Linked DNA regions of Homo sapiens: region 1 is linked to region 2. The links come from fine-mapping of genetic effects on gene expression. A gene starts in region 2. The other region holds a variant in brackets. All regions are shown on one strand. Distances are between the middles of the regions.

Region 1 (5,245 bases), 34 kb after region 2:
CATTTTCCCCATTTTGCAAGTGAAGCAGATGAGGCACAGAATTTTTAAGCAACGAATACACAGCCTCACAGCTAAAAATTGTAGGAAATATAGAAAGAGAACAACTAAGAGTGGGCTATAAAGCAACCAGGAAAGAAGAGGATACTGAATTGTCAGCTTGACAAAATGGGACTCTATACAGTTTCCATTTGCCTTTAGTTAGAACTACAAGAGTTCATACACACACTCAAGGTAAACAGATGCGTGAACTCCCACAGCCTTTACCTGACCACTTGTGTATGGTATTTGTGGAAATGCCTGGTGTTATTTTTTTTTCTTCAAGAAAGATACTGCCTTTGAGGCTTCCAAACTAGTCTTCATAATGTTGAAAGTTGCTAGGGGCTCATCAGGACACTAATGCACAACCCAAGAAACTATCATCAGATGACTAAATTTCACCCTGCTTATTTGAGACACATCAGTCTCCTACCTTATTTTGGGAAATACAGCAAAATGGCTGGTAGACAGATGGTATTTTGCAGACCAACAAATTTAATCCATGCATCCACAGTCACTGGGGAGAAAACGTCATCAAAACCCCAAAGCCCAGTGAAATACCCATTCCAGAAACGGGGCTAACGTCAACCAACTGGGTTAAATATTGATCATTACATGGTGGTTTCTCCACAGAGCTGTTAAAGGAACTTAAAAAGTTGCTCAAAGGTGAGAGGAGAAGCAAGAAAGAGACAGAGGGCTAGCTATTACTAACGAACTTGAAGTACTTATTTAAAAGAGAGAGAACATTCAGCCTGACATTTAGACATTGCTTATGTGATGTGCACAGTCGTATTAAAGCCCTGACCTAAATTTAGCAGTTTAAAAAGAACTCAGTTTCTACTTCCACCCTTTTCCAAATGCCAGCTGAGAACTGATTTCTCAGACCCTTTCCATCCATAGGAAATCCCTGAGAACTTTACAAAAAATTTAAGAACAAAAAGGTCAGAAAGTTAAAACACAGTATGCAGTCTCTCTCCTTCCTAAAATGGCCATTTGGTTAAAATCCATTATAATGAAAGAGTTAAAATTCTGCACAGTTTAAGAACAACCAGTTGACCTTTAAATGTGCTGGTTTGAATCCAATCACCTTTCAACAAGCATGAAATCTGGCACAAGGTGTACTAATGCACACCAATTATTTTCATAGTGTACATGACTGATCTCACAGCGTCCTGTTTGGAAAAAAAAGAATAGTGTTCATTTTCCAAAAGCCAAACTTAGAGGCTGAGTGTCTCTGTTGGTGGGTGGGATTTTCCTTTGGTAACTGTCTCCAAAAGTGCCTTTGGAGGAGGCTTTTCCTTGAAAAAGCACAGCAGAATACCTTAAGGAAAATAACTTTTTCATTTTGTTTAAATTCTGTTAAATGAAATAGTTTCCTCCAACTTTTAATACGTCAAAGGTAAAAATAGCTGGGAAATAATTAATTACTATCCTTTGTTAAGAGCTTTCAAGCCATATATGTAGGAGAAAAAACAATCCACTGCCAGTGAAAGAGTGAAATACTGAATCCTACTTGGAGTAAATGGATTTAAAACCCAGAGATTCAAAACCAATCGTTGAGAGACTTTCTATTCCCTAAAATGATTATTTTCTTTTTAAAAAGTAATTCCCATGAGATTCTTCTAAATGATAGGATCCTCTGATATCTTCAAAATATAGTTCAAATTACAATGTACCTTCACAGGACTTTTAAGAACACACTGGATGGTTGTTTTTGTGCAATGTACAGACATAGGTGCCCTGTTATGGGGACTACACCATACAGCCAGATACACTCTGGTCAACTGCCAGACTATGTTCCTTCTCACCTCCTTTCTCTTCTACCTCTATGGTTCCTCCTGTACCCCAACCCACCCCATTTCCATCACAGTGGAATGCTCTCCCATGTCAGACAGTAACATGGACTACTAACCCCACACCTGGACCATATTCAAGCCAGAGTCGGATTTTCCTTTGTTGAATCCTTTGCCTGGGAGTGAGACTTCTGACATTCCCTCCCCAAATCCTTCTCTCAGCTCCTCACTTTGGTGGGAGACTTCTGTTGGCCATGCCTGTGTTTGTCAGCCCCTCCCTGCCACAATATTTGATTTTCCTCCTCATTCACTCTCTTTATCTTGTGAGTCCAGAAAAGAGAAAGGTCAGGATCTCACAGCAATATGGGTAGTGGCCCATGGCTTGTGGCCCCGGGCCAGCACTCAGATCTTCACCCACCCAGCCACTTCTGCTTTGGCACTGAGGAGGAAAGGGCTTGATTCAGGAAAAGAAGGCACCGCCTAGGTTGGGCACTATTCACAGACCATGTTAGGAAGACACCTGCTGGCCCACGGCCCTGGCCCAGGAGGCCCCCTTGGAGATTCCCATCAGGAAAGTCTGGTTATGTGCATAGTCCTAAAGATTCCCCCAAAATCAAAGGCTTCCTCCCAGAGTCCTGGCAGAGCAAGGTCATTCCACAGACATGCCAGGAAAGACAGGCAGCCAGAGTCTCTGTGGGCCTCCCTCACTGCCCCTGTCCTAATCTGCACTCATTCCTAAGCAGACCTCCATCACCAGCTTCTTCTAAACAGCACTAATTCTGTTCCTTTTTCCCTACTCCAGGACTGAGAAGACGTCAAGGTCCAGACACTCGTCATTAACACCTACTCACAACCGATTCCCCCACCCACTTTGGCCTCACCAAGATTTGGCAAGCAGGAGAATTAAATGTCACTTTGCTACCATCCTCTGCTGAACCTCCAACAGAAAAACCCATATTGCCCAAGTACAAAGCATGAAATACTGCTGGCCTACCCTGACTTTTCAGCTATTCTCCTTGCATATAGTAAATGACTCCCCAGGAGACATCATCTTAAAGTCTGAGACACAAAAAAGGACCCAAAGTCCTATAT[G/A]CTTGAAGAATTGCATGGCAATATATTTAGTTAACATTTTCTATTTTATTAGAAAAAACAGACAATTCAATTGTCGATGTGATCGTTTCAGGCTTCCCAGCCTCTCCTTTCTGACATCATCCTATATACTACAACCTCCACCAGAAAAGCAGTATGGTACTGGGAAAAAGAGATCTAAAGGCAGAACACTAGGGCTTCACTCTCAGCACTGTTAACTGAGTGACTTGACTAAGTCACTGAAATTCACTGAAACTGCAGTTTCCCCTTCTGTCAAAGGGGGATAACAATATCAGCTTCACAGGGTGCTGTGAAGGAAGCAAATGAGAAAATGAAAGTGAGCATCCTTTTAAATTATAAACAGAGAATAAGGGAGAGGGGAGGGGGAAGGGGAGAGGAGGAAGAAAGGAAACAATCTGCCCTCCCTCACCCCTTCACACTAGGTAAAATAAAATGTTTAGACAGAAAAACCTAAAGAAAAGGATCCAAATAAAATATTCTTAGGAACTGTCAAAGGGAGAAGACATTGGAATCTCCAAATCTGGCCAAGAGCTCAGCCTAAGCAGCATGTTTTGAACTCCTGAGTCCTTGGAACCCTGCACTAAAGCTTTGGGACTCTGACCTGCAGGAAAAAAAAAAAAAAAATGCTTCCCTCAGTTCATTCCCTGTAGTTTAAAAACAAGAGCAACTAAAGGGCAAGCTTCGGGGGCAAGGGGAGACAAACACCTCAGACCATTAACTTACTTTATCCCCATTGGAAATCAACTTCTGGAGAACATTTCAGCTTTGTATGCTCTTCTTGGTCCCACTCAAATGGGAAGTTCTGCTCGAGGCCAGAAATAGAAAACAGGAAGTCAACAGAACTGATTTTCCTAACTGCCCAAATGCAAATCACCACACTCCGTTATGGATGAGAATTAGAGTAAAATGTAAACTTCTTTTTAAAAAGAAGTTCACATGCTAACTGTGTACAGAAAACATCCTACTCCAGGGAAGAAAGAAAGAAAGAAAGAAAGGAAAGATCCATCAGCTTCCTTCCTTAATAAAGGAGGATTGACAGAGCTGGACTGACAGTGAAGTAAAGGTTACCGACGGTGTGCTCATCAGAACCATGCTGCCACTAAAAATAATGAAGTGTCCCACTTTGATGCGACACTATTCTCCAAGTTGGTTCCTCTAAAGGTGCTTTTCTTCAAGGGAAGCAGATACTAAAGTGACAACTTTCTCATTACCATTCAGACTATTTTCTTAGAGTCCCAGGTTTGAAACTTTCAAGTTGAAACTCTAAGCTGCACCCACTGCATACAGACTTCTTAGTCAGTTTCTGTCACGTACCATCATATCTACCTTATTTGCATCAGTCATAAATTCTGCTCATTCTTCTATCACAGCTCCTCTGACATTTGCCAGACCTCACCATTTCCTCAGCCATTTCTGGTCTGAATCATCAGCCCCCCATGCCTGCTGCCTGCTCTCTTCTATAAACATACCAGATGAATCTTTCCAGCATGCTGCTTCCCCTGCCCCCAAGTCAGCCACAGTTCCCTACTACCTATTGATCACATCTGAGTTGCCTCAGCCAGTGGTCTTGCCATATCTACCTAGCTTAGGCTGAGTGTTATAGGAGAAAGTGCACTAGCCCGGGCACCAGATGGATCAGGTAAGACTCTAGCTTAGGTAAGCTTTATCACATCATATAGTGGCTGTGTGGATTGAGGAAAATTATGAAACTTCTTTGCACTTCAGTTTTCTCATTTGCAGAATGAAGATAATAACACCTACCTATACAGTTACTAAGGATTAAATAGGATAATATGCACAAAGTGACCCTAGTGAGTTTCAGTAAGAAGAATTAATGCTTATGAAGTGCTTATCACATTCCAGCTTCTGTTCTGTGTGCTGTGCATGTGTTTATGCAGGTATTATTATTAACCTCATTTTGCAGAAGAGGAACTTGAGGCAAGAGAGAGCGTGTAAAGTCACATAACAAATCCACAGAAGAGCTAGCCTTTGAACTCCAACAGCCTGACTCCAGTGCCTGCATATGTAACTCCATGCTCTACTGCCTCCCATTTCCCTTTCCCTCCAACTTTCACCGGCTAACACAGCCCACAGGTCCACCTCAGTCCTTCTCATCCTTCCAGTCTTCCCTCCACATTCCAACTACCTGTGACAAATGCTATCCTGCATTTTCTCTCCAATCTTACCTGACATCTTGAAGGGAGCAGTTCAGTTACAGCATTCTCTCCATACCCAACTATACCATCTCTCTACTCTTTATCTTGCCCTCACATACACATAAGTTTGTCATTGTTCTTCAGTTCTTT
Region 2 (5,245 bases):
ATAGATGGATCAGCATTGAAGCTCCAATGGGAGCTTCAATGGGAGCTTAAACAAATGTAAGGTCCAAAAGCCTTCATAACATTAGGATCAAACAGTGAAGATTTTCTTTGCTTCAAAAGTTTTGTCCATTACTGGGAATATGTTTTAGAAGTAAAGAGTCCTAACCCTAGCGTGATGAGCTACAGTCATAATAATAGTGTACATGTACAGCACATTACAAATTACACATTACAATGTTCTTTTGACAAGCACTTTCTCATTGTGATGTGGATATTCACCAATCTAGTAAAATACCAGAACATATATCATTATTTTCATTTTAAAGACATAGAGACTGAGGCTTAGAAAACGTTTCATGGCCTGAGCGTGGTCCCGTTGACTCTAAGATTAATTCACCAAAATGTTCTGCTTCTTGAAATCAGATATTAGAGGAACACAGTTATAGTTAAGTTGGAATCACTGATTGTCTTGAAATTAAATGAAAGCTCCTCTTCTACCAGTGTCTAGCTCCACAAAAGGAGGGACTTAAAGAAATGTAGGGCATTTAACTCCTTGGTGGTGTGCTTTTTCTGTGGGAAGAGGGACATTTGTTTCATTCGTTTTGTTCTGCTTTTTTAAAAACATGCTCAAGGTAGACAGCAACTCTTTTGAAAACACAAAGTAAGAATTATTAAATTCTTGGGCAAGCTGAAGAAATCAAATCAGTCCTATATATAACACAGGAAAAACGTTGGAGGGAAGAGCAAATTTTTCCAAAAACAAAATTCACCAAAAAAAAAAAAACCCACTGGAAAATGTAATTCAATCAAAAAATTATATTTTCTTCAATTTGGATTTATGTCTTTGCTTCAGTAGGTAGTGTTAATAGTCTCCAAATGCCAGTGTGTATTCATGAACACTTAGCAAGTTCATGATGTGATACATTCCTTTTTGGATACATCTTTCGTCAAATCCATCTGTCTATGGCAGATATGCATAGTTTTACAGAACCTTATCTGCAAAAGAACTTCCACAGTTAGACAAAAATGGTTTTAGAAAATTGAGAGGAGTGGATAGAAGAAAGATCAACTATTGCTGTTTGGGAGATTTTTTTTGCTTTCCCCACCATGCCTTGCCCCCAGCCCACTGTCCACTGGGCACCTGGCACCTCTAGACTCCATTTCTTAAAGCTCTGTTCTTTCACAAGTAAGAGATATGACTCTGGCATCTCAGGAAGAACTGAAGTGATGGAAGTCCCAGAGGAAAGTACCGATGCAAGACGTAAATACTCCTAGTATACACCCACCAGAATTTCCTTGAGCCTTGGTTTTAAACATCCTCTGAATTATATAGGCAGCTGATTAATGTTTGATAATTAAGCATTTTTATGTGATTCATCTCAATAAGAGCCCAAGCAAGGTAATGTAAACAATGAAGGCATAAAAAGGTGGAAGGAGATGTGAATACTACACCAAGTGGGCCACATGGACCTAAGGAAAAAGAGGAGCTGAGTTGAAGTCAGGAGCTGATTCAGATAAAGCAGCTTCAACTCTACTACTTCTTACTCTTAGATGGGCTCCAGACCACCTTGAGGGATGGGATTATATTTATTTTATAGATGCACTCCTTTCTCCCACTAATACAGTCAGTTAGGAATGTATAGCTAAGAATGAGCCAACCATTACTATTCGTGTCTATGGCTACAGAAACTCAATAAATCAACTCACTATTCTGGGTCAATAAATGAACTCATTATACTGTTTCTTCATGAAGTAAATGTGTTTCTAAAGGAATGTATTAAAATTACATTTTTAAAAATCTATGTATTTTGCATATATTTGATTGATACAGAAAAGGAGTCTACGTTGGCTACTTTTCTTTCTTTCTACAAACTTCATTCATTGGTGTGATCTGAAAGGGGATAATATTTCAGAAAGCAAAAATATTTTTAACAACAAAACTTTGTATTTCCAGTGTGATCTAAACACAAAATTATGCAAAACACAACTAATATTTCTCTCCTACTGGCTAAATCATGCCAGTTGTTTAGGTGCAATCAAAAATAAGCCACTAATGTTATTTTTATAGGAATTGGCAAGTAATTGCCAACTATAGCTATTAAAAGTTTATATTTGCCACAGGAGCCTGTGATTTTAAATACTGTTCAAATGATTTATGCTTGAGAGTTATACATAGCACAAATACATACATTTGTATCTACAGGTCTAAAGAGGAAAAATTAGACAAAAAGCAACTTGAAAAGGAACCCCTTTATTTTTAATGACCTACCTTTGTGCTGTATTGAGAAAAAGTATAAAAATTATTTGGGAGGAAGAAAAATATTTCTAAGCACTAATTTCATAGGCAAAAGCCCTATTATTTTTTATGATAGGCTAGGGGAAATCAATAATGATTTAAAAGCAAACAGTAAACTGCTCACATTTACCAGTCTATACTCAGTATTAATTCTACCCTGCAGTGTATGCTATAGAAGGTAATGAAATGCTGATGTTTTCTGGTTTTCCACTTCAATCTGCTCCAGCTTTATCCTAAACCTTGTCAGCAACAGAAGTTACCCCCCAGCAATCATACAAACCTAATAACGGCTTCCCTGGCTTAATTTGATCTGCTCCAATCACAAATTCCAATCCACATACTTTCTTCTGTTATGGTTGTGTCTGTATGTGTTTAATGTACTTTTTATAAGGCTTTTTTACAACAAGCGCATGGTTTTTCATTCAGCCCTCTACCACATAAACAGAACCACTGAAGAGCATTTTTGTTCATATAAAAATGTTTTAGTTATTCATAGTGTATGTCTTCAATTGGCTGCAGATTACAGTGAACAAAAGTATTGCTGCCATCATTTTACATTTCTCCTGTTACTGTGCCCTATCTGCTGTGTACCCCTGTCCCCAAAGCATTTATTATAATATTTGCTGCTTGCTCTCAGTTTTGGACTGAGATGCTTGGGGGTGGGAAAACTTAAAACTTGCCTGACTCAAGTGCTCTCTAAGCTTTGATCCCAGCATCCTGCTTTAACCTGCTCCTGTTGGACCTCTGCCACTTTACTGACCCCATAAAACAAACAGAGCTAGCAAATGCATCAAACAGCCTCCTTCAAAATGCAGCTTGACTGTGATTCATGGCACAAAGCTGGAATAACCCTGCCAGTTCTTAGAAGCTTTAAGATTCATCGTCTTGAACTTGATACACATAGTATAGCACCTTAAAAACGAATCATCTGCTAGTTCAGTATTTTCTACTTACAATCACTCCCTCCCAGGGCATGTAATTAATTTACTGAGCTTAAAAAAAAAATATCAGGATTACTCACACAGTCTTGAAGATGCAATGTCAGCTATTTAGGACAGAAACATCCAAGGCCGTGTCAGAACTCAATTACGACTACATATGCATTAAGGCAGGAACTGGCAGGCCTCAGGGTACGCCAACTATAGGACTCGTGCTTCTCGTACGCTGGGCTATAATCTATGAAACTGAGCTCCAGAGCCAGCCAATCACTTAGCTCCTCATAACAAGTCTAACTGGCTCTGGAAAGCTGAAAGGGCTGCACTGGAACAACACAGATGAGATATTCTACACATTAATCTACTTATCTGGAATCACTTTGCCTCTAAAGGCCAGAGAAAAATCACAGCTTCCTTGTCGGAGGGGAAAAGGACAGGTGATCTGGGGAAAACGCAGCTACACCTGGAGCAAGGTCTCTTCCCGGCTTGGCAATCTCAGCTGTGCCGGCGCTACGGGACCCGAGCCGTCCCAGAAACCAAAGGGCAGGCACGGCAGCAAACGCCTGAGGTAATTTTCATCTTTCTTTTTATTTTTAGTAGAATAATGCAGACTGAAAGTGATAAGCATAAAGTCGCTGAGGCAACTAGATATGCTTCGATTTTATTTTACATTTTCCTATTCTAATCGTGTGCAGGATCATTTGTTATGAAGTCTGAGGAGGGGGAGAATTAATGTACCTGAAATAAACTTGAAACTAAAACGATCATTTGTGGAGGAAAATACAGGATTTTCCAGAACAGTTTCAGAGCTACCTTTGCAGATGGGTAGGCTTTTCACCCACCCACAGAAAGAAGAGTCAACGGGGCTGAGACAGGACAGGGATGGGTTTCAGGAGCACAATTAAAAGTTTTTCGTATCTTAAAGAAAATATCTATGTTCAGAGAGAAAATTGAGAAGATAAGTTACTGCCCAGTTCCTCTGGTCTTTGACACTTAGACCACATAAGAATGTTCCATGGTAGAAGGGTTGGGACAGAGAATCTTAGGAATCCTAAGAGAGAATCAATACTGCTCCCCTACCCCAGGTTTTTCTTGTTTTCTTTACAATAGTATCCTTATTTCCCATTACATTTTAGTGTTAGTCATACCAATTACTTGTTACACCATACTTCTACATTTGCAGTTATTAAAGGATCTGCAGAAAACATTTTAAAGTCAAAATGATTATAGAGGCAACTAAAATAAGAAAGCAAAAAAATATGTGAAACTGACATACACATAACCAGAACACCACACCCCTTAGATACTTAATGTACTTAACCCAATGACAAATCCTTCCAAATCCTTAGCAAATTGTCTGTTTCTTTAATACATTTTGTAGCAAGTGTAACATTAGCAACGAAGAAAAACTTTGGCAATAAACTTGTACATAACTAAATCAATCCTTATGCTTTCATAGTGACGATAGAATATACATAATATTTTATTTGTTTTGTTGGACTTATAAAATCCTAAGGCAAGAAGCTGAGAAGAAAATTTTGCTTTATTTAGTGGTGACATATAAACAGTAACAGAAGAGACATTTATGCACTTTTTTTGGCTGTAGATAATTGACTGAATTCAACTTGAGATTTGACACCAGAAAGAAAAACGTTGCAATAGACAGAAAACAGAAAAAGTAATCCATTGGCAATTTCCCCCCAGGGTTTGTTCTTTGAATTGTCCAATCTGTGACTAGCCAGGGAAGAATATTTCTGCTCTGTTTAAATAGTTTTTATTTAATTAAACCTTTGTTTATTTGACAGTGCTGCTGCCTTCGGTGACTATATGAGAATGGAAACTTCTAAGGAAGCCAGGTTGTTAGAATTGTTACCCCCTTTACTCAGAGATAACATAGATTATCCAGGCTGAGATGGAAAACAAGCCCTTTATTGAATTTTCAACACAGACTCCCTGCTTCTCATCTCCTTAATAAAATTTCATTAAAATCCCCTTGAACTCCCATGTTCAAATCT

Alleles and levels. Positions count from the first base shown, and alleles are read on the strand shown. Sizes are in standard deviations (SD) of each study's normalised expression.
For the expression in prefrontal cortex of the gene that starts at base 3,088 in region 2, allele A in region 1 goes with a higher level than allele G (moderate effect, 0.72 SD a copy in GTEx).

What was found. PIP is the estimated chance that this variant, and not a neighbour inherited with it, causes the effect. A credible set is the group of variants that fine-mapping cannot tell apart.
Region 1: its variant is the best candidate, but not a certain one, in a credible set for the expression of PART1 in prefrontal cortex (GTEx, PIP 0.82).

Annotation. Positions count from the first base shown.
Region 1 is chr5:60,518,389-60,523,633 of GRCh38, forward strand. All of the region lies in intron 1 of PART1 (prostate androgen-regulated transcript 1), which reads left to right. It also overlaps a transcript of PDE4D not described here. Among named protein-coding and RNA genes, the nearest start is that of PART1, 33 kb to the left of the region's middle. RefSeq lists enhancers at 4,034-4,103, 4,254-4,513. The variant G/A (reference allele first, on the strand shown) is at 2,922.
Region 2 is chr5:60,484,626-60,489,870 of GRCh38, forward strand. PART1 (prostate androgen-regulated transcript 1) reads left to right here and starts at 3,088. Exons shown (of 4, transcript NR_024617.1): 1 at 3,088-3,798. It also overlaps a transcript of PDE4D not described here.